Linked DNA regions of Homo sapiens. The protein of the gene in region 3 purifies or fractionates together with the protein of the main gene of each other region. This does not show direct contact. Each region holds a gene or a part of one and is shown on either strand. Other genes may lie near its edges.

Region 1 (2,977 bases), about 16 Mb from region 3:
AGCAGAAGGGTACTAGGGATGAGGGATAATGGTCTGGAAACAGTATGAGGACACGTGCACCACCTCCAGGCCCAGTGGGACACTGGGTGTGGAAGGGAAAATGCCACCACTACTGAGGTGGTAGGAGAAGCAGAGTCCTCATAAGAAACCAAGTCTGAAGAGCATAAATGTGAAGGGAACGTTCAGAGAAGAGGTTGAGGACACAGAGAATTTGACAAATGACTGGCCATCAGTTCCAGAGGGCACAGTGGAAGAGCTTCTAGAGTTGGAAAAGGTAGGTAGATGGAGACAAAACAGAGTGGAGATACATGGTTATTAAGTGTAAAAGATGAGATGACTCAGTAGTTTAGGACTAATTGTGATGATTGATATCAACATCAATAAGATTAAGGGTATGAGATTCGTTCTGTTGTTTGTGGTACGGAGGGATGTGCATCTGCGGGCATTCCTCAAGCCTGCCGATGGATGTGCATGTAGGAGAAAGTATACGGAGTAGAGGCAGTTTTAGAGTTACAAGTTAGACCAATCTCCAGGCTGTTTGTTTGTTTGTTTTTAAGAGACAAGGTTTTGTTCTGTCACTCAGGCTGGAATGCAGTGGCTCAATCACAGCTCACTGCAACCTCAAACTCCTGGGCTCAAGCTATCTTCCCGCCTCAGCCTCCCTTGGAGCTGGGACTACAGATGTGCGCCACCATGCCCAGATAATTTTTACATTTTTCAAATAGATGGTGTCTTGCTATTTGCCCAGGCTGGGCTCAAACTCCTGGGCTCAAGGGATCCTCCTGACTTGGCCTCCCACAGCACTGGGATAACAGGTGTGAGCCTCCAGGCTATTTTGAGAGAAGTCTTGCACACCTACTTCAAAGAATTTAAATGAGAGAATGAATGTAAAGCAGTTAGCACGGGACCCGATGCTATAATAATAGTTATGATACTACTATTGTTGCCAGGCACAATGGCATCCTTACTCAGGAGGCTGAGGTGGTAAGACTGCTTGAGCCCAGTTCGAGACCAGCCTGGGAAACACAGCAAGATTCCGTTTCTTAAAAAAAAAAAAAAAGATACCTCATTCTTGGTTCCACAGCAGCAAGCTCCAACAAGAATTTATCCAGCACCAAATCTACATTGGTCCTGAACAACACAATCCAATCACCAACATACAAAACCAAAAAACCAAAAATATTTTATTGCTGAGTCATCCTGGGGTTCCATAAAGGACCCCAAGCCTTGCTTGGAGTCTATAGCTTTGCTAGGACTCCCATGACATCAGGATAGAGATTGAGGCACGGGGTCCTTTGGGTTCCGATTAAGGAACTATCTACTCTGATTCTGTTGATCTTATTAGTCCCTCCAGGTCACCTCTACTTCATCTGTCCGATACCTGTGGAAAAACAGAAGAAACATGGTGGAGAGCGAGCCCTTAACATCCTTCATTCTTCTCTGCCCTCATGTTCCTGGACTCTTCCCTGCTGTTTTTGTCTATGTCCCAATAATCTACCCTCACCAAGAGGTGAATCACTCACCTCTGTGTAACCCCAGAATCACTGAGTGGGGTCCTGTGTCCAGCCCGAAACATCTCCCAGCCAGCCTGGGCTATCATCGCTCCATTGTCAATACAGAATCTGGGATGCAAGAGAGATGAAAATTGGGATCTAAGGGTGGAAAATCACTATAACAGGAGAAGTAAAAAAGAAACCAAAGGGAAAGTGTCTTTACCTCTCATCTGTAGCAAAAAGCCGGGCTCCACGTTCCTGGCACATTGTTGCCATCATCTCCTGTAGCCTCACATTACCTACAAAGAGGCAGGGAACAGGATTAGCTTAGTTTTAGCCATCTCTTCATGGTCCAGCAGAACACGTCATGTGCACTCACTTAGAACAATGACATAGGGGATTAGGGGCAAGGATTGGGAAGCCTACTCCAAACGCTTAATGATTTAGAGTACCAGGAGGAAGACGCATAGTGTTAAGAATAGGAAAGAGGAACACTTTTCAATAATACATACACCCCACTCCTCCCACAATGAGGGCCTCCTGGGAGCCACAATGTGCCATGGCTCGCTCTGTGATCTCTACCAGCATTGCAAACACAGTTTCCTGTCAGGGACAGATAAGGAGAAAATATTAGAGGGGCATCCCAGATTAGTTCTGCTCTACAATATAAAACCTTCAGCCCCAACTTTCTGTCCCAGTTTTTTACTGCATTACCTGCAGGGAGAAACACAGATCCTCAGGAGTACACTCGCCTGTGGCCAGCATCCGATGGGCTACATCCTACAATTAAAGGGAAAAACAAAAGAATCAACAAATCATGGTTTTGGGATTACACGAGAGCAAAAATTAATGCATTCGGAGGGTCATCATGTTTCACCACAATTCAAGTTACCAGCACATCCTGTACCACATTCCCTTCACTGGCATCATGGCATAGAATGAGCAGCTTTCATTTAAGATGCAATCATTACTTTTTGAATACTTGTCCTGACATCTCTCACCCCTTACTTATCCTGCTTAATTTTTCACCTGTACTCATCATCATCTGGCACTTCATTATTTTCCTCTTTCTTATCTCCCCCGCCCCCCATTTAGAATCTAAGCTCCATGTAGACAGGGATTTTTGTTTTGCTCCATGCTGCATCTCTACTATCTAGAACAGCATGTGGCACACAGAGATATTCAATGAATACCTTCTAAATGAATTTACCCAGCACATGATATGGACCAGTACTGTGCTACATGAATATACTGAGCTATACGAAATATAATCGTAAGTAAAACAGATATGCTTCATTTAAAAAGCATGAAAGTGCCCGTCTCATCACCTCTCACACTCACCTCAATGAAAGACAGGATCCCTGAGAATGAGACGTCCATCCCCTTTACAGTGTATGGCAGCTCAACTAGCTTCTTGCCTCTATGTGGGAATAAGCGTACGAGGCACTAAGCCTACAGTCAGCTGGCTTCTCACCCTCCAAAGC
Region 2 (3,205 bases), on a different chromosome or scaffold from region 3:
TGGCCCCAGTCTTTCTCTGTCATGAAACTTGGCCCTCCCCAGACAATGAAAACATAAATATCACATCTGTGACAACTCTAGCATTTCTAGCAGGAAAAACAAATCCTGAAAAAGCATCAAATGCAGTGAATCTGACCACACAATGGTAAAATAGTTATTTCAATAAAGATTTTCATTTCAAAAAATGAATTTTTTTGTTGTTTCCACAATAATCAATTTAGTTATTGACAATGCAGGTCAGGCCTCATTCATGGCCATAACATAATCTCTGATCTTTCCAGTCCCTACAACACTACAAATTTTCACAGGATTATACATAGAATTCTAAAGCAAAATAATCCTAGAAAATATAAGTGGAAATAAAAATATATAATCAAATCAGATACACTTTTTTCATACACAATAAATCATTAGCATTTTTTCTTATAAAGGACAGGCTCACTGTAGAGTAGTATGCAGAAAAATATAATAAATAAAATAGATATCACAAATAATGTCATCTAATTTTTTTTCAGATCTTCTATGGTGTTTATATATACAATACTGTTGGTTTTATATTGTATACAGATCTGTTTCCTGTTATTACCACTTGATGTTATTATTGTGATACTTTCTTGGTATCATTAAACATTAGTAAACATTTTCTATCATGTTAGATACCATATTTTATTTAGACATTCCCCTGTTTTCAGGAATTTAGGCAATCATTTCTATTTTAAATCATGCTTTAATAAGCCTTTTAAGCATTTTTTTATTTTGGTCTAAACTTGGGGTCATTTGTGAGGATAAATTCACAGAAGAAGAAATTTTTAAGGCCTTTGATAGATGTTCCAAGACTGCTTTCCAGAATGTTTGTGGTGATTTATAGATGTCCTAAGAATATTTGAGGATATCTATGTCATGTACCTGCACTAACATAATTACTGTGTTTTAAAAATACTTTGGTTTTATTGTATCTTAAATAATTAATCAATAATTCTAAGGAAGCCTTATATCATAGGTGAGAAGGTTTGTTTGAAATTGGCAAGGAGCAAGGTACATGAGGGAGTTTGCATTGTCCACAGCCTTAAAGGTTCACTTCACACAGTAAATACTACAAAATTATCTGTCTTGGATTGTTTAGACATTCAATTGCTTGAATGTCCAGGGACAAACCACTTGATCTCTTCTAAGTATTTCATGTTAGGGTTTTTAGAAATAGCTTTTAACACAATTTTGATTGAAATAATTTTTCAGAAAGCCCATTTCACTTGTTAAGGCATTTCATCTTTAGCTGAATTTTAAGTATGCTATGAGATAAACCAGGAACAAGGAGACTTGATTCTCTATACCATATTTTATCGATTCTAAGACACACATTTTTCACATCTAAGCGTCTTTAGTATTTGGATGTATAATAGGCACTGCTAGCACTTTCAGATCCCTCTACCACTCTCATGCATGACAGCTCCCTGTGCTTTCACTCTCAACATTCAGCACCTGCACCTCTTTGTTGGACGGCTGTCCTCAGGCTACAGGAACATGCTTTGACTGCATTGCAGGCTGGAAGCACCTGGAAATTTACACCCACCCCCACCCCCACCCCCATTCAATAACTGATGGTGCAGAGGTATAAATACTCTGGGTTCTCTGGCCTCTGACTTGAACCTACTGTAGAACCTTTTTGTCTCTAGGGCTCTCCCGTGGGAGTGAACCAAAGTCATCTCCAGAATAGGCTTTGCTTGACATCACACTTTTTGTGGGTTTTTTTCCCCCTTTCCTTTGGATCGGTTCTATTTCTCTATTTCCCTATTACTTTTCACCCTTGGGCCACTTCCTAATTCACATAAATCCTTATGTCAGAGGAATTAAACATATTACAGGAAGTGTCTTACAATAATTGATGTCCTGCAGTTACTGTCAGCCAGGTGGTCATAGTGATATGGTTGTCTTTGCCTGTGCATGCATGAATTTGGTTGTTCTTTCCATGATATGACTGGACTGTTACTTCTTTACTTTTTGGTCAATAAACCATTTAAGGACTATTGAGAAGAGTATGAATCCTGATTGTTATCTAAAATTTTTCTATTAAGTCCTTTTGCCAAGATAAAAAATGTGCCAGCATCAGAGTTGTAGAATGGATGTCTAAGACAGGGAAAAAAATCTCAGAGACTGCAGTAGAATATTCCTTTAAGAAATGTTATTTATCCTGATGGCAGAGAGGGTGTTACCGTGAAAAATTGTGGTTTATGACAACTCTGATTCAAAAAAGAGATGCAGAAAGAGTTCAATTCTGAATGTACAGAGCTTTGTAAATATCATAATTAATATTTCATTCTCTTTTACACACATGATTTTTAAAAATCTATGCTGAAACAGTTCTCTTGTATTTACTTAAAGGCGTATAAGATAAAAATTCTAACTACTAAGTCATATTTTAAATCTTTTTTTCATTTTCAGTTACACACAAAATAATGATGGGTCTTATAACTGATGAAATACTAATTGGGAATATGGTACTTATAGAGACAGAAGAAATACAATCAATGAACAGTCTTAATTGGAAAAACTAAGGTAACTTCATAGACTTCTCACTTTCCATTTGTAGAGAGAGTTCTACTGGTAAATGAGGAACCACCAGTATTTGGTCATATTTTTGAAATTGTGTAGATTTTATTAAATATTTCTTATTCCTCCAATACGTGTGTGTGTGTGTGTGTGTGGTGTGTATATACACACAGATATATATATATACACACACACACACACACATATACTAAGTGTATGTGTGTGTATGTATGCATTCTATTTCCTTCAAATTTCCCTTATATCGAGTACTTTTATCAGAGAAGTAATCCATGCATTTAATTTGGTGCCAACTTCTTATTTTTGTGTGGTAATCACCAAAGAAAAATAAAAGCTGGCATTAGATTAAATGCATAGATTACTTCTCTGAATGATAAAACTGCCTAAAGAAATAGAATCTGCTCATAAACATCTTTTCATATTCCATTCCACAGAAATTTCTGACCTTACCTGTCTATATTACCTATTCCTATAAGGTAACTTTATTATCTACTCAATTTGTTTTGTCTTCCTGTTGTCTCTTCTCGTGTGTGCTGATGAAAGATGAATTTCTCCACTGTGAAACAGAACAGTCAAGCAATTCCAGTGGGGTTACTTATAGATGAGATAATTTCTGCAATTTCAGAGTTCTGTGGCAATA
Region 3 (2,808 bases):
TCACTCTGTCACCCAGGCTGGAATACAGTGCATCACTGCAGCCTTGACCTTCTGGGGTCAAGTGATCCTCCTACCTCAGCCTCCCAAAGTGCTGAGATTACAGGAGTGAACCACCAAACAATTATTGACCTGAACAACTGCTCCATGAAAGAATTTCCACATAACTGTAGCTGCATCTTTCAAATGTTTAATTTATAACTGTGGTAATGTATGTACTGCCTAATGTAACTGGGGTATTGTAAAGGGGAGGCTCTCAAAAGAGAGGTACTATAATTTCTTTGTAATATCCTAATTGCTGTCCAAAAACAGACCTGGTTTTATAATATTAGCTAACATCTACTGAGCAATTCCCTTGGGACAGACAGTTTCAAACATGCAAGATCTCACCTCTTCTTCGTAACAATCAATAAGGTAGTCTCTACTATTGTCATTCCCATTTCACAGACTGGGAAATAAGAACAAAGACAGATTAAGTAAATTGATCAAAGTCACACCGTCAAAGGGATAAAGCTGGATCTATTGTTTATTTACATGAATACTGACATCTTAAAGATTAAGAAAAACAAGTTCATACACATGCATTTAAAATTCATTTCAGTCAATAAATTTTTGTTGAATGCTTATTATATGCAAAGTACTGATTTAAACTAATAAACTGGTTAACATCAATGTTACAAATATAAAGTCCTTTTAAAGTATCAATATCAAAATAAATCTTCCTTCCTGTGGTCCACAAAAGAAAAAAGATGTACCAGCACTTGTAAATTAAGTTTTTCAATTTCCAAAATACCTCCTTTAAAACAGAAGGGAATAAATTCCAACAATGCTATTTTCAATGCATTCATTATTTCAAAACTTACTGGAATATTTGAAGATTACTTGCTGCAAGCTGGACTCATGTGAAAATAAACCTTGACTTCACAGAGAAGTCTACATTGATAAATATATATCCGTTGAATTAATAACAGTGTAAGTTACACATATGTATACAAAAAAGTAAAATGACAAGGATGAGAGGAGTTTTTCATGGAAGGTGGTGGGTTGCCATGGATTCTGCTTCTCTTGATTTTCTGAGGAGGGCTTGTTTGAGGGCACTAATTTTCTCATCAAGTTCAGCCAGTGAATAGTTCTGCTGTAAACAATAACGACACAAATTGCTGAATAAGATTCTGAAGTATCTTAATGCAGATAAAGTGCCAAATGAACTATAAATATTTAAAATATTCAAAAGCATGATCAAATGGTTTTTTTCCCTCATGAGAATAATCTTAAAACTGAGCAACTATATATGTTGACTATATCATAAATTTAAAGGCATAAAATAACAAGGCTTAAATATTTCTTTTTCTCTTTTCTAATGACTAAGCTCTCCTGAACCTTTTATACTTAGAAAGAATAAGTTAAAAAAAAAAAAAAAGCCTGATTATTAGACACTGGAGCCTATTTGAAGATGGGAGGAGGGAGAGGACTGAAAAACTGCCTATTGGGTATTATGCTGATTGCCTGGGTGACAAAATTATCTGTACACCAAACCCCCATGACATGCAATTTACCCATGTAACAAAGCTGAAAAACCCTTGAGCTTAAGTAAAAGTTGGAAAGAAGAAGAAAAATGCTAATTATACTACTACCAGGAGAAAAAAATCATTTGAGACATCAACTATCCCTTTTAATGGAAAACTTTCTATGTTGATTACTAAAGTTAACCTGAAGTGGAAAATAGTGAAGAAAATACTTCTTTTACCTTCCAATAAAAATTGGATTTATTCAAGTCTACCTATGTGAACACCCTCACTTATATATTAATATTTCTAATTTAGACACAAGTATTATGTAGTGGCTATTAGGGGGTAAAGAGAAGGGGAAATTGGGACTGAGTGCTAATAGATACAGGGTTTTGGGGGGGCAGTGATGGAAATGTTCTAGACTTAGTGGTGATGGTTGCACAACATAGTGAATATACTAATAGCCACTTTAAAATGATGAATTTTATGTTATGTGAATTGTATTTTTAAAGCAGCAACGAAGTGTTACAGTTTACTACATAAGAGAATAACTTTTAAAAACCTGATTATTCTCATAATCAATAGTAAAAAAAGTTAGTTAACTTTAAAAATAGCTGCTTAAAATACTTAGAAATTCTCTCTTGAGGGATCAACTATAATAATTTACTTCGGGAAAAAATAGCTGCTATCAAAAAACTTACTCAGAATTTTACAAGAAAAAAATATGCTACTCTTAAAAATCAGAAAGTTTTCTCCAACTTTAAATTCACATTACCACTGTTAAATTCTAGCAAAGCCTTACTATTTAAGGTTCAACTAATTAGTAAAGTAGCACTTTAGACAGGGCTGGCTGAAGTCAAACTCTGCCAAACACCCTTTTTGATCTAGGTGCTGCTAATTAGAAGTGTTCACAAAAGGAAGGGATGGGGGGAGACTGAAATTACTTGAGCACTTACTATTTTTAAGCACTTTGTGAATGACACATCCTTGTACTACTAAAAGCAGGACAAAGGTTTTATTTATTTAACCTATCTGAGTCATTCCATGCCCTTAAAATAATTTTTCTATTCAACTGTATTAGTTTATACTGCCCTTTTCTTCAGTCCTAAATTTTACCAGGGTATGACCTAAAAGCAACCATAGTAGAAACTTTTATTAATAAGAAAGGTATAAAACTAATCAAACTATTTCAGAAACCAAAATGAAAATGCAGTAACTTACTTGAGGTGGTTGAACTTTTCTTCTTTTTCCAGAAAAGCTCTAGATTAAAAAAAAAAAGGTAATGTTTAGAAAAATCTAAGCA
Region 4 (3,500 bases), on a different chromosome or scaffold from region 3:
GAACATTCTTTTGGAAGGCTCTCATTCAATATTTAACCACAATCTGACATCGCCCCATCCATATATATTTCCTTTAATCTTTTTGAGAAGAGATGGCCTGATCAGGTTTATATCCTCAGAATGCATCTCTATTTTGACATCCATGCTCAGGTCTCTCTGCAAGAGTACTGATCTGGTTTTAATTAGCATGTATCCATCTATCTATTCACAAATGTTTCCTGTACACCTGCTATATGCCAGGTGCTAAGCATCAAAGAATATATATACGTATCAAGCTCTTGTCAGAAAGGTTTAATCTTGAACTGTCAAACTAAGAGATGATATTTATGGACGAGTACAGTTCAGTATTCTTAGAGTTATCTAAATTTTTATCTCTTAAAAAAAAACTTTTATTCGGCCAGTCACAGTGGCTCACACCTGTAATCCCAGCACTTTGGGAGGCTGAGACAGGCGGATCACTTAAGGTTGGGAGTTTGAGACCAGCCTGGGCAACATGGCGAAATCCCCACCTCTACTAAAAATACGAAAATTTGCTGGGCATGGTGGCAGGCACCTGTAATCCCAGCTACTCAGGAGGCTGAGACAGGGAGAATTGCTTGAACCCAGGAGATGGAGGTTGCAGTGAGCCGAGATTGTGCCACTGCACTCCAGTCTGGGAGACAGAGCAAGACTCCATCTCAAAAAAATAAAATAAAATAAAATTCCAGTAGAGTCCTCAGAGAAATAAATTTTATCTTTTAACTAAACCACAACAGTGAGTTAAGATTAAATCATTGTGCCGCTATGTGAAACTGATTTTACCAAACTGTTTTGGCATCAGGCCAATGATCTGTATTGAGAAACATAAAAAACAGTACCAGGAGATAATAGTTCATACTTAGAGTACTCAGAGTCATTTAGCCAGACACCATGCTAAACACTTTGCATGCATTAATTCATTCAACCCTCACAATCAAATCCCATGTAGAAAGTACCGTTATTACTCTCATTTGACAGAGGAGGACACAGCTGACAGGAGGGTTAAGTAACTTAATTAAGGCCACACAGTGGTAGAAGCAGGATGTTAACCCAGGGAAACTGACTCCTGAGCTCTTATTCTTAGTAACTATGTTACACTGCCATTATTCATCAAGTAAGGATGTTGAGGTCTTTGTTCATTATATCCTTTCACGTTTTCTCTTTTTTAAAAAAACAGGGTCTCACTTTGTTCCCCCTAGCTGGTATGCAGTCAGTGGCGTGATCACAGCTCGCTGCAGCCACAACCTTGCCAGGCTCAGGTGATCCTCCCCTCCCACCTCAGCTCCTGAGTAGCTGGGACCACAGGCATGCACTACCATGCCCAGCTAATTTTTGTATTTTTTGTAGAGACAGGGTTTCACCATGTTGCCCAGGCTGTTTGTGAACTCCTGGGCATAAGCTATCCATCCACCTCAGCCTTCCAAAGTGCTGGGATTACAGGCGTAATCCACTGGGCCTGGCCTAATGTTTTCTTAATACTTCTCAGGAGAAATTTTAATACTAGGAATAGGAATGGCTCCTCAGCAATTGATTTGTTCTCATCTTCTAACAAGGAATAATGTAACTGAATAGTCTTTTTCTTTGAACTAGGTGCACTTAGAGCTAGATTTAGCACATCTACTATAGACTTATGGTATGCATTTTTGGCTATCATACTTCTAACTTGAAATGATTATCTCCTTATTAAACCAATTTATTTATTTCCATCTATTTCCTTATTTTTAAACAGTATTATGTTAATCTTTGTAAGCCAAACCCTTTGTAGGATAAGGCTTGGTATAAACAATAACTTGAATCCAACAAAACAGTTTATAAGGATCCAGATCCTTAAAAAGCTGTCTAGATTTATTTTATTACATACCAAAGATGCTACTTTAATATTAGCAGTTTTAACACATGATCAGAAAATCAAAGTCAAGTGAAAGAACAATCAGTATCCAGAAAATTTTTTAATAGATCCTTAAATATTCTTAATTCTTCTGAAGAACTCTGTTCTTCATGGCATGACACATACTGTAAGTTCTTCACTAACAGAATGAACATGACTGAATATGACTATCTGAACCCCATTAAAGAAATTAAGTACCTGACTTCAAGGGCTTTGATAGCTTCTAGCATTTGTAGAAACTCTGCTGCTTTCCATACATCATTGGCTTCTTCTTCTCCTTGTATCATTAATTTTGCTGTATATGTGAACTCAATTAAATGGCGAAAGGCCATTTTACTAACACCTGTAAAGAAGATGTACATTAGAGCATGTAATCATATTGACTCAAATCTTACAATGTTTAGTAAAGAAAGAAAAGCCCAGGGCTTGGAGCTTGTTGAGTATTTATTTTTGAAAACTATTTTCTGGAAAAATTCTCATTAGCAATACAATAATATTACAGCCAAATTTCAGCACTACCTAGCTGGAAAATCTTAAACTACTTTAAATTTCCTGAGGCTCTTGGAGAACAGTAAGATTCTATCACTCAAATATATGAATTGGCTATTACATGTCAGACATGCTACATTTCTTGCCAGGGAGATTACAGCTGTGCCAACTCAGCTCCAAAATCTTCAATAGCTTTTCACAACTTAGCAAACAAAATTTAGTACCTCTCTGACTTTATTTCAAGGCCCTTCACATTATTTTCCTATTTACCTTTCCAAATTTTAAACGACATCACACACACACTATATACTATTTCTCAAACAAACCCTGCACTTTCTAATAGCTGACTTGCCTTTATTTATTTATTTTGAGATGGAGTTTCACTCTTGTTGCCCAGGCTGGAGTGCAATACAGTGATCTTGGCTCACAACCTCTGCCTCCCAGATTCAAGAGATTCTCCTGTCTCAACCTCCCGAGCTGCTGGGATTACAGGCATGTACCACCACGCCTGGCTAATTTTGAATTTTTAGTAGAGATGGGGTTTCCCCATGTTGGTCAGGCTGGTCTCAAACTCCCGACCTCAAGTGATCTGCCCGATCAGCCTCCCAAAGTGCTGGGATTACAGGCGTGAGCCACCGCACCCAGCCTGACTTGCCTTTATTAACACCCTCCTAGTTGGATGCTTAATCATTTCATCTCTGGTTATACTCATCCTACCACCCACCCCTTAAAGGTCCAACTCTAATGTCACATGTTCAATGAAACCTTTTAACATTTATTGTAATAAGAACATGAGATCTACCCACTTAACACATTTTTAAGTGTACACTATTGTTGACTCTAGGTACAATGTTGTACAGACCTCCAGTTTATTCATCTTGCGCAATTGAAACTTTATGCCCACTGATTAGTAACTGCCCATTTCCTCCTCCCTCCCAGCCCCTAGCAACCCGTATTCCACTCTTTCAATCTATTTGAGATAGCTCATATGAGTGGAAGTGACTATTTTAGATTCCTCATATAAATAGAAATATGCAGTTTATGTCTGTGACTGGCTTACTTCACTTAGCATAATGTCCTCAAGGTTCATCCATGTGGTTGCATA
Region 5 (3,093 bases), on a different chromosome or scaffold from region 3:
AAATACAAAAATTAGCCGGGCACGGTGCCTGTAATCCCAGCTACTCAGGAGGCTGAGGCAGGAGAATTGCTTGAACCAGGGAGGCGGAGGTTGCAGTGAGCCGAGATGGCGCCACTGTACTCAGGCCTGGGCGACAGAATGAGACTCTGTCTTAAAAAAAAAAAAAAAGAAGAAAATTAACAGTGGCTGAAGGCCAGAGTCTGGGCTCTTAATTTTTAGTCCCTGCAGTCAGGTGACCTGTTTGTTTTCTCTGCGACAAACACGTACTCCTATGAGTACCCTGACAGGAGAAGCTGCGGGTGGCTTTCCCCAGGATGAGCCAGGGATGAGATAAGGCCTGACTCCAACTGAGTCTCCAACTGGGAGGTCAGGGTGACATTGAGGGGCTTCACCTTGAAGGCACAGCGTAAGTGGTCATAATAGACTTCCTCAATGGCCTGGAAGTAGATGACACCTTTGAGCTTGGTCTCTTCCTTGTCTGGTAGGGGAGGTAAGAGAAAAAGAGAGCCAGTGAGAAAGGTGTGTCTGTGTGTGTCGAGGTGAGGGTCATTGGCCCTAAGTCCTGAGACTGGATTTGGGTAAGAAACATGGTGACAAGAGTCTGAAGGTCTCTAAAGGTTGGGAGGTGAGTGAATGTTAACGCTGGATGGGAGACTGGGCACAGAAACTGGACATGATTGGGGAGTGGGGTCTGTGGAGCTGGAATCCTAGGCCCTGAATGCTCGGCCTCTGAGAAGGGAAGGAACTCAGGGAGTGCTCAAGTGCTTTCTAGGTATAATCTCTAACCCTCTCAAACTCTCCTGGAGGGGTAAGTACATTTATCTCCATCTGACAGATGTGGAAACCAAGACTCAGAGAAGTTAAGGCACCCAGCACAAGTCACACAGCCAGAGCTGACAGAGCCAGGACTCACCAAGTAGAGTCAAATGGTCATACAGGTTAGGGAAGAAGGATTTGAGACAATACAAGCGTCCAAGGAGGCTGGGTGCAGTGGCTCAAGCCTGTAATCCCAGCACTTTAGGAGGCTGAGGCAGGCAGATCACAAGGTCAGGAGATCGAGACCATCCTGGCTAACACAGTGAAACCCTGTCTCTACTAAAAATACAAAAAATTAGCCAGGTGTGGTGGCATGAGCCTGTAGTCCCGCCTATTCAGGAGGCTGAGGCAGGAGAATCGCTTGAGCCGGGGAGGTGGAGGTTGCAGTGGGCTGAGATCGCACCACTGCACTCCAGCCTGGGCGACAGAGCAAGACTCTGTCTCCAAAAAACAAAAACAAAAACAAAAACAAAAAAAAGTGTCCAAGGAGAGGTTTGGAATAATTGATTCTCCTAGAGAAGAAGGACAAGGGCCCCAGACTCCTGGCCATTGGGGGGCTGGGGGCAGCTGACAGTGCAGGTTCAGACTCATGGGTGTCTTAGGAACATGGGCCCTGGGAAGCTTGAATTGTACTAAACTGTTATCTATGTCCCTGAGGAGGACTGGGGGTTTGAATTCTGGGTGGCTTAAAGAGGGGCTGGGGATCTGGATTCCAGGGTCTGGAGGAGAGAGAGAGCTGGGAGCCTGGACTCCTGGGTTGTAGGGAAGTTAGGAGCTAGGGAACCAAACTTCTGGATCCTGGGGAACATGGAAAGTGGGGGCCAGGACTTCTGGTGCCTGTAGAGGAAAGGCCTCCGGAGTGGAATTCCAGCGTCCTGGGGCCCATGGTGGCCAGGCTGGGCTTACCCGCATAGTAGGCCAAGCGGCGGGCTTGGCGGTCAAAGCAGAACCATCGCTTCCTCCAGGTCTTGATGCGGCCGCCCATCTTCACCAGGGGTCCACGGCAGCAGCACCCAGACACCTGCACATGTGGGCAGTTTTCCGGGTTGTGGCCCCATCCCTCCAGATGCTGCCGGAGATCCAAGATTCGCGGGCCTGGAGGGTGGGGTGGGGTGGGTGGGGCCTGGGGAGCAAAGAGACGGGGCAGCTGATGTAAGGGGCGGGGGATTCTACAGCCTGGAGCCCCTCGAGGGGAGCAAGTCATAGCAGCTTGCATGTAAGGCCCGCTACAGCCTTTAGAGGGTAATATTAACTAGGACCATCTGACAAATGCAACGGCTACGTGGATTGACTGTGATGCTCTGCCCAGGACTTTATGGACATCAGCTCCTTGGCACTTCATGGCAACTGTGAGCCCCATTTTACAAATGAGCAAAATGAGGTACAGAGAGATGACATAATGCACCCGAGGTCACACAGAGCTTCTAGGCAGCAGAACTGGGACACGAACCCAGGTATTTCTGACCCTAGAGCTCACCCTGAAACATCAGAGGCCTATCAAAAGAAATAAAGATCGGGCCGGGTGTGGTGGCTTATGCCTGTAATCTCAGAACTTTGGGAGGCTGAGGTAGGAGGATCCCTTAGGCCTAAGAATTCAAGGGCAGCCTGGGCAACATAGTGAGATCCTGTCTCTGAAAAAAAAAAATTTTTTTTGGAAAAAAGAAATGAAGATTGGAGCCTGTGTGGTGGCTTAAGCCTGTAATTCCAGCTACTCAGGAGGCTGCGGTGGGAGGATCCCTTGATCCCAGAAGTTGGAAACCAGCCTGGGCAACACAGAAGACCCCTTCTCTATTTAAAAAAAAAAAAAAAAAAAAAAAAAAAAGGAGAGAGAGAAGAGAAGCTATGTGCAGTGGCTCATGCCTGTAATCTCAGCACTTTGGGAAGCTGAAGTGGGAGGATCACTTGAGGCTATGAGTTGGAGACCAGCCTGGGCAATATAGTGAGACCCCATCTCTACTAAAAATCCAAAAAATTAGCTGGGCCTAGTGCTGCACACCTGTAGTTCCAGCTACTAAGGAGGCTGAGCCCAGGAGGATCACTTGAGCCCAGGAGATCGAAATTGCATTGAGCTATGATTGCACCACTGCACTCCAGCCTGGGTGATTGAGTGAGACCCTGTCTCAAAAATAAAAAAGAAAGAGAGAGCTTGTTTACATTATTATTGTTGTGATGAAATTAATGAATATAATCCTCTGCTAAGTACTTTCTAGGTATAATCTCTGCCCCCTCAAACTCTCCTGAAGGGGTAAGTACATTTATCTCCGTTTCACAGATGTG
Region 6 (3,521 bases), on a different chromosome or scaffold from region 3:
TTTTGTTTTGCTTTTCCTTTGTTCTTTCTTTCCTTTGAGCCATAAAAAGCCAAGAGAGCACGTGGGTTTTTAAGAGGATCCTGCTCCTTTTTCAAAAAGTTCAGTGAGAAATTAGAGTCATCCCCCTGTATCTGTGGGGGATTGGTTTCAGAACCTCCTACAAATACCAAAATCCTCTATGCTCAAGTCCCTTATATAAAATGGCATAGTATTTGCATGTAACCTATGCACATCCTCTCATATACTTTAAATCATCTCTAGGTGTTCTTACAGTACCTAATACAATGTAAATGTTATGCAATAGTTGTCATACTACATTGGGTTTTTTTGTTATTATTTTTTATAGTTTTTCCCCCAAATCTTTTCAATCGGCAGTTGGTAGAATCCACAAATGGAGAACCCATGGATAAGCAGGGTTGACTGTATTAAAGTGTTTCTAACGATTTTCAAATCAAACATTCTACGGTGATTTATTTATGCCTTGACATCACCAGGTGATGAAAGTCTCTCACACTTCTCTACCAAATTATCTCGTAAAGGCAAAAGAAAGGAAAAAAACCCCATAATCTAGGAGGTGGTCTAACCATAAAAAGTAACATTTCTATAAATTGTATCTTGAGAGTTCAAGGAAATTTGAATTCCCTCTATTCCATAATGTATTTAAACATAAAAATATTTACCTCTTCCCCACCTCCTCCCCACCAAAAAAAAAAAAAAAATCAGTAAAATTCACATTCTGGGAAGCTATGTAATGTTTGACTTTGGTTTTGTACATTTCCATCAGAATGTCACATACTCTCGGACACATTTGTATCCTTGTCTCAGAAGCACTGCTGTCAGGGAAATGCAAGCCAGAAAATGACTGTAATGCCAACCAGCCTTCAAAAGTTAACTGCTAGCCAGATTTTCTCAGACCCATCACAAATATCTTAGTCCCATTACTACAAATAAGCTCTTTGACAGCAAGAGACCATGACAAAATCATCTCTGCATTCTTCACAGCCCCTAATAGAGTATCTTTACATATAAAGGACAGTCAGGAAGTACTTGCTGCAGGAATAAATGGATAATATGCGTACTTAATCCAAAAAGCCAAACTAAGCTGGGTGCAGTGGTATGTGCCTATAATCCCTGCTACTTGGAGGCTGAGGCAGGAGGACTGCTTGAGCTCAGGAGTTTGAGTCTAGCCTGGGCAACATACCAAGGCCCCCATCTCTTTAAAAAAGAAAGGCTGCTCTGCAGCTTGGGTGGTGGGCAGGGTGGGCAGTCCTCATTGTCACCGCCATATTTCTTGTAGGTTTTTAGAACCCTGGAATCCATTTCTCACGGGTGACTGCGGTCCTATTATTCCAGCTTGGACTACATAGTCCACAGGTGATGGAGAAATCTTGGACCTCTGGCTCCATCTCCAGGACCTCTGGCTCTGCGCTGTGCTGCGTCTGACCAGGTCCCGCTTGAGGACGAAGGCGGCGCAGTTGACTGCAGGAGCCTCTGCAGCCCCAGCCTGAAGCCTGCATGGGACCCTGTGTGGCGCTAACAGGTTTTTTTTAAAGGAAGATTGATATTTTCTCAAAGAGAGGGGATGTCACTATGTTGCCCAGGATGATCTCGAACTCCTAGATTCAAGCAATCCTCCCACCTTGGCCTCCCAAAGTGCTGGGATTATAGGTCTAGGTTTTCCCAAATCGCTTTTCTGGTAGAGAAACCCTGAGGACTGATTGGCTTTTGCTTGTCTAAAACCATGGCCTGTGAATTTGTAACATTCAGGGACATGGCCACAGACTTCTCTCATCAGGAGTGGGAATACCTTGACCTGGTTCAGAAGACCTTGTACCAGGAGGTGACGGTGAAGAACCATGGTAACTTGTCTCACTCTCACTGAGGCTGGAGAGCAGTGTCGCAATCACAGCTCACTGCAACCTTGACCTCTATGGCTTAAGCAATCCTCCTGCCTCAGCCTCCAGAGTAGCTGGGACTACAGATTTGGATTCAAGGTGTGAAATAATCAGAGATGGAAAAATATACATTTATAGGAGACACACATTTGTTACTCCACATCAGAGAATTCATCCTAGTGAGAAAACGGATCAACATGAAAAGTTTTTGAAGGTAAAAAAAAAAAAAAAAAAAGGCCAAAACAGTTTCTTCAAACTTATTTCTCAATAAAAAAGATGATTTTTAAAATATAACTTTTAAATTCTCTAACAGCCTGGCAAAACCTGAAACTTTTCTATAGTCTTATAACAGTAATGCATTTTTCGGTTAAAACAGTAGACATAATATCCATTATATTATTCACAACAAAGAAATAAGTTTGCACAGCATTTCTTCAGTTTATGGATGTAGTCAAGCCCTTTCATTAAATTGTTTGCTTTTTCATAATATATTTTTGTGTTCTACAAAAATGTTATGTACTTTAACAAATGATAAACAATATTTTAGGATGACTAATTATGAAGTTACTTGAAATTCAAATACCTGAGTTCTTTAAAAAGTTCAACATTCTGGTGAGTCATCAAATTGTTTAGAAGCCATTCAAGGCACCTGAAATTAAAATATATAATTATTACATTATATGCCATGTATTTACAATTTATTAAGTAGGACTTATAGTTAAAATAAAATCAGATTAATCTTGCCAGAACATGCTCAAAACTTTTAGCTTAACAATAGGAAATTTAGTATTATTTTTGTCAGTGGATATTATTAAGAGAATATTTCCTTTATATTAACGAGAGCATTTCCAGTTTTAAAACTTCATTTTGAGTTTGTGTTAAATAGTTTATTAAGGGGTCTGCATACTAGTATAACCTTCTTTAAAATCTCAAAACAGGTACTGCAACTCTCAAGAGTTAGAAGGACTGTCAGTCTATCAGGCCTACTTCTTAAACAATTTTAATAGAAAATATACTATAAAGTGCAGTGGCATGATCACGGCTCATTGCAGTCTTGAACCTCCTGGGCTCAAAGAATCCTCTGACCTCAGCCTCCAGAATAGTGGGGACCACAGGTGCATGCCACCATGCCTGGCTAATTTTTAAAATTTTTTGTAGAGATGGGGTCTCCCTACATTGCTCAGGCTGGTCTTAATCTCCTGGGCCCAAGTGATCTTTCTGCCTTGGCCTCCCAAACCACTGGGATTACAGGTGTTAGCCACCACACCCGACCAAGGTGACCATGGTTTTTATAAGCATGTATATAACCCACCTATGGTCACTTACAAAGACGACACTTTTGAGGAATTTACTAATTAGTCCAAAAGTTAAAAGGGGCTTTTTATTTAATAAAATTCCATCCCCCTATCCTATTTTTCCTTAATTCTTTCTTTCTTATAGCTATACATTCTCTTAAGAAACTAAAGCAACCAAATTCCTAAAAGTGGGATAGGAAGAAAAACAAGAAAGGCAACTCACTTTTTCTTTACAGAATCTAATCCATAGGTCCCTGCTGATGTGTAATAGCCACATACAGTTTTCACATTAACTGTTTCCTTCATTGTCTCACCACACTGCTGTATTAAA
Region 7 (2,508 bases), on a different chromosome or scaffold from region 3:
GATAAAACATTAGGCGTGGATATTTTGTGTGCTAGCCTGCATATCATTCTCTCTTCCCGTAAACTCCTTGAGGGTGGGATCCATGTCTTTTTCATATACCAGGAACTTGCTTGTACCTATAACAGTCCTTAACACAGCCTCACTCACACACCCAGTACATAGGTAGAGTTTGTGGTTTGAAATACTTATAGTAATGCTTTTTCAATGAAAGTTATCAAGCTAAAGACATCACACATGTAGCACATGAAAAAAATGACTGCAATTTTGCTGATGAAGTTTTAGTATTACTGCTGCTGTTAATAACAACCAGGTACTAATGTCATCTACAGGAAACCTGTAGCATAGGTTAAAATACAGATGATTGACAAGTTTATAAAATGCAGTTATCTCAGCATGGTAATAGAGATTCCCAGTACCTGGAATAAAATTTACTAATTATGGTTTCCTTGAGATCATTAGACATAATTCAGAAAACTCTTGAATTCAGTAAACATCTGTTGAACTTTTTCCCCGTTCCATTTACAGTTCTAGGGGCAGAAGAGGCAAATATGTTCCTGAGGAGAGGCAGATAAACAAGACAAGTTAAAATGCCCTAAGATAAATGATATAATGGGAAAATGAATTCAAATCTAGGGGTACAGCAATGAAGCCATTCATTTTGGAGGGAGGAGGGTGTGGTGGGGAGTGGCATCAGAACTGTGGACCCTGAAGCATGTGTTCAGCAGCCAAGCCATGAGGAGAAGGGACATGCGAGCAGAGGACAAAGCTTGAGCACAGGCAGAAGGGCATGAAATGTGACTGGATCCCCAGGCAGGCTGGACTGGCCAGAAGGCAGAAGCGCCTGGCTGGAGGGCCACTTGGCACCAGAGGGAGGAGGTGTTTTTGTGCAGCGCCAAGAGGCTGGGCTTGATTCCATAGGAACAAGGCGTACCTTTAAGCAGGGAGTGCTTTTGAGGAAGTGCCAATGGATGTTGGAAAGGAATCATTAAAGTGAAAAAGTAGGCAGTGAGAACTGTTAGGACATGAAAAATAAGAGCCTGACCAAGGAAGAAGGCAGATCAGGAAATGTTTCAGACGTAGGAAACAATGGTTAATGATCTTGTGTTTTTTTTTTCATTTTTTTTCTCTTAGATTTCAGAGGCTTTGAAAAAATTTGGTATCTCAGCAAATGACACTTCAATTCTAATTGTTTACATTGAAGAGGGAGAAAAACAAATAAATCAAGAATACCTAATATCTCAAGTAGAAGGTCATCAGGTTTCTCTGAAAAATCTTCCTGAAATAATGAATATTACAGAAGTCAAAAAGGTTTGCCAGTCCATATTTTTAGAAAGAGTGTGATAGATGAGCAATAATGCTGATGCCGTTTGCCTATTGATCACCAGAGCTCCTTGTTTTTTGAACTTTTGAGAAAGTTAATCTAATTTTAAAAATTACTTAAAAATTACAGATACAAAGAACTGGGAGGTGTGATGGTTTATGTAAAATATAATTACAAACTCAGCTGACATAACCATTCTCCACATTAAGAAAGAGAATACCTTTAAATATCAAACTTACATAGTATATTTAAAATGTAAAATAAATTTAGTATGCTTTTAAAATGGATAGAAATTTGGTTTTTATGTTCTTGAGAGTTACTCCCATAGCAGCAATTTAAAGGGGATACAAGTAATGAATTGCCCTCTACTTTGAATATTTTAATCACATTTGTTGTTTGTTATACCATGAACCCAATAATTGAATGAGGAATAATTTCACTTACACATGTTTGTATAATGACAATTAGTAGTGAATGACGATATCAGCAAGTCATAATTTGTCTTTCATTTTTACAGATATATAAACTCTCTTCACAAGAAGAAAGTATTGGGACATTATTGGATGCTATCATTTGTAGAATGTCAACAAAAGATGTTTTATGAAATGTCAGAAATATTAACAAAAATTCTCAGCATTAAAGAAAACATTGATTTTCCTTTCCTGACTATAAAACTAATTGTGCATTATAGAAAAGTTTAAATCACAGAATGGTATTAAAAAAAAAAAAAAAAGGCCAGGCACGGTGGCTCACGCCTGAAATCCCAGCAATTTGGGAGGCCAAGGCAGGTGGATCACCTGAGGTCAGGAGTTCAAGACCAGCCTGGCTAACATGGTGAAACCCCATCTCTACTAAAATACAAAAATTAGCTGGGCATGATGGCAGGTGCCTGTAATCCCAGCTATTCGGGAGGCTGAGACAGGAGAATCGCATGAACCTGGGAGGCACAGGTTGCAGTGAGCTGAGATCGTGCCATAGCACTCCAGCCTGGGCAGCTGAGCGAGACTCCGTCTCAAAAAAAAAAACCAAAAAAAAAAAAAACAAAAAAACCACTTGTAGTCCTACCTCGTTGTATTTTAAAAGATAATCAGTTACTATTACTTGTTATTGCCTTCTAGAGTTCTGTTTCTATTCAAATATATTTTATTTTTATATAATTAGAATAAAAATTGCAAACACTTATGGAA

The links.
Region 1: the proteins of MBIP (region 3) and OSGEP purify together in Homo sapiens (co-immunoprecipitation; 3 studies listed by BioGRID and IntAct, with this or other methods). This does not show direct contact.
Region 2: the proteins of MBIP (region 3) and STXBP4 purify together in Homo sapiens (affinity purification with mass spectrometry; 3 studies listed by BioGRID and IntAct, with this or other methods). This does not show direct contact.
Region 4: the proteins of MBIP (region 3) and ZNF131 purify together in Homo sapiens (affinity purification with mass spectrometry; 3 studies listed by BioGRID and IntAct, with this or other methods). This does not show direct contact.
Region 5: the proteins of MBIP (region 3) and PHLDB3 purify together in Homo sapiens (affinity purification with mass spectrometry; 3 studies listed by BioGRID and IntAct, with this or other methods). This does not show direct contact.
Region 6: the proteins of MBIP (region 3) and GMCL1 purify together in Homo sapiens (affinity purification with mass spectrometry; 3 studies listed by BioGRID and IntAct, with this or other methods). This does not show direct contact.
Region 7: the proteins of MBIP (region 3) and TPRKB purify together in Homo sapiens (affinity purification with mass spectrometry; 4 studies listed by BioGRID and IntAct, with this or other methods). This does not show direct contact.

Annotation. Positions count from the first base shown.
Region 1 is NC_000014.9:20,445,899-20,448,875, forward strand, and holds the end of OSGEP (tRNA N6-adenosine threonylcarbamoyltransferase), read right to left. Parts: intron 2,914-2,977; coding exon 2,835-2,913; intron 2,274-2,834; coding exon 2,208-2,273; intron 2,097-2,207; coding exon 2,006-2,096; intron 1,793-2,005; coding exon 1,717-1,792; intron 1,623-1,716; coding exon 1,524-1,622; intron 1,382-1,523; coding exon 1,342-1,381; 3' UTR 503-1,341; downstream 1-502. UniProt on the Homo sapiens protein: Component of the EKC/KEOPS complex that is required for the formation of a threonylcarbamoyl group on adenosine at position 37 (t(6)A37) in tRNAs that read codons beginning with adenine.
Region 2 is NC_000017.11:55,167,744-55,170,948, reverse strand, and holds part of STXBP4 (syntaxin-binding protein 4), read right to left. Parts: 3' UTR 1-3,205. UniProt on the Homo sapiens protein: Plays a role in the translocation of transport vesicles from the cytoplasm to the plasma membrane. Inhibits the translocation of SLC2A4 from intracellular vesicles to the plasma membrane by STX4A binding and preventing the interaction between STX4A and VAMP2.
Region 3 is NC_000014.9:36,298,059-36,300,866, forward strand, and holds the end of MBIP (MAP3K12-binding inhibitory protein 1), read right to left. Parts: intron 2,766-2,808; coding exon 2,727-2,765; intron 1,133-2,726; coding exon 1,025-1,132; 3' UTR 506-1,024; downstream 1-505. UniProt on the Homo sapiens protein: Inhibits the MAP3K12 activity to induce the activation of the JNK/SAPK pathway. Component of the ATAC complex, a complex with histone acetyltransferase activity on histones H3 and H4.
Region 4 is NC_000005.10:43,137,914-43,141,413, reverse strand, and holds part of ZNF131 (zinc finger protein 131), read right to left. Parts: intron 2,250-3,500; coding exon 2,105-2,249; intron 1-2,104. UniProt on the Homo sapiens protein: Plays a role during development and organogenesis as well as in the function of the adult central nervous system. May be involved in transcriptional regulation as a repressor of ESR1/ER-alpha signaling.
Region 5 is NC_000019.10:43,477,655-43,480,747, forward strand, and holds part of PHLDB3 (pleckstrin homology-like domain family B member 3), read right to left. Parts: intron 1,940-3,093; coding exon 1,723-1,939; intron 479-1,722; coding exon 393-478; intron 1-392.
Region 6 is NC_000002.12:69,843,154-69,846,674, reverse strand, and holds part of GMCL1 (germ cell-less protein-like 1), read right to left. Parts: coding exon 3,414-3,521; intron 2,545-3,413; coding exon 2,479-2,544; intron 2,091-2,478; exon of another isoform or gene 1,808-2,090; intron 1-1,807. UniProt on the Homo sapiens protein: Possible function in spermatogenesis. Enhances the degradation of MDM2 and increases the amount of p53 probably by modulating the nucleocytoplasmic transport.
Region 7 is NC_000002.12:73,729,360-73,731,867, reverse strand, and holds the end of TPRKB (EKC/KEOPS complex subunit TPRKB), read left to right. Parts: intron 1-1,131; coding exon 1,132-1,308; intron 1,309-1,838; coding exon 1,839-1,925; 3' UTR 1,926-1,995; downstream 1,996-2,508. UniProt on the Homo sapiens protein: Component of the EKC/KEOPS complex that is required for the formation of a threonylcarbamoyl group on adenosine at position 37 (t(6)A37) in tRNAs that read codons beginning with adenine.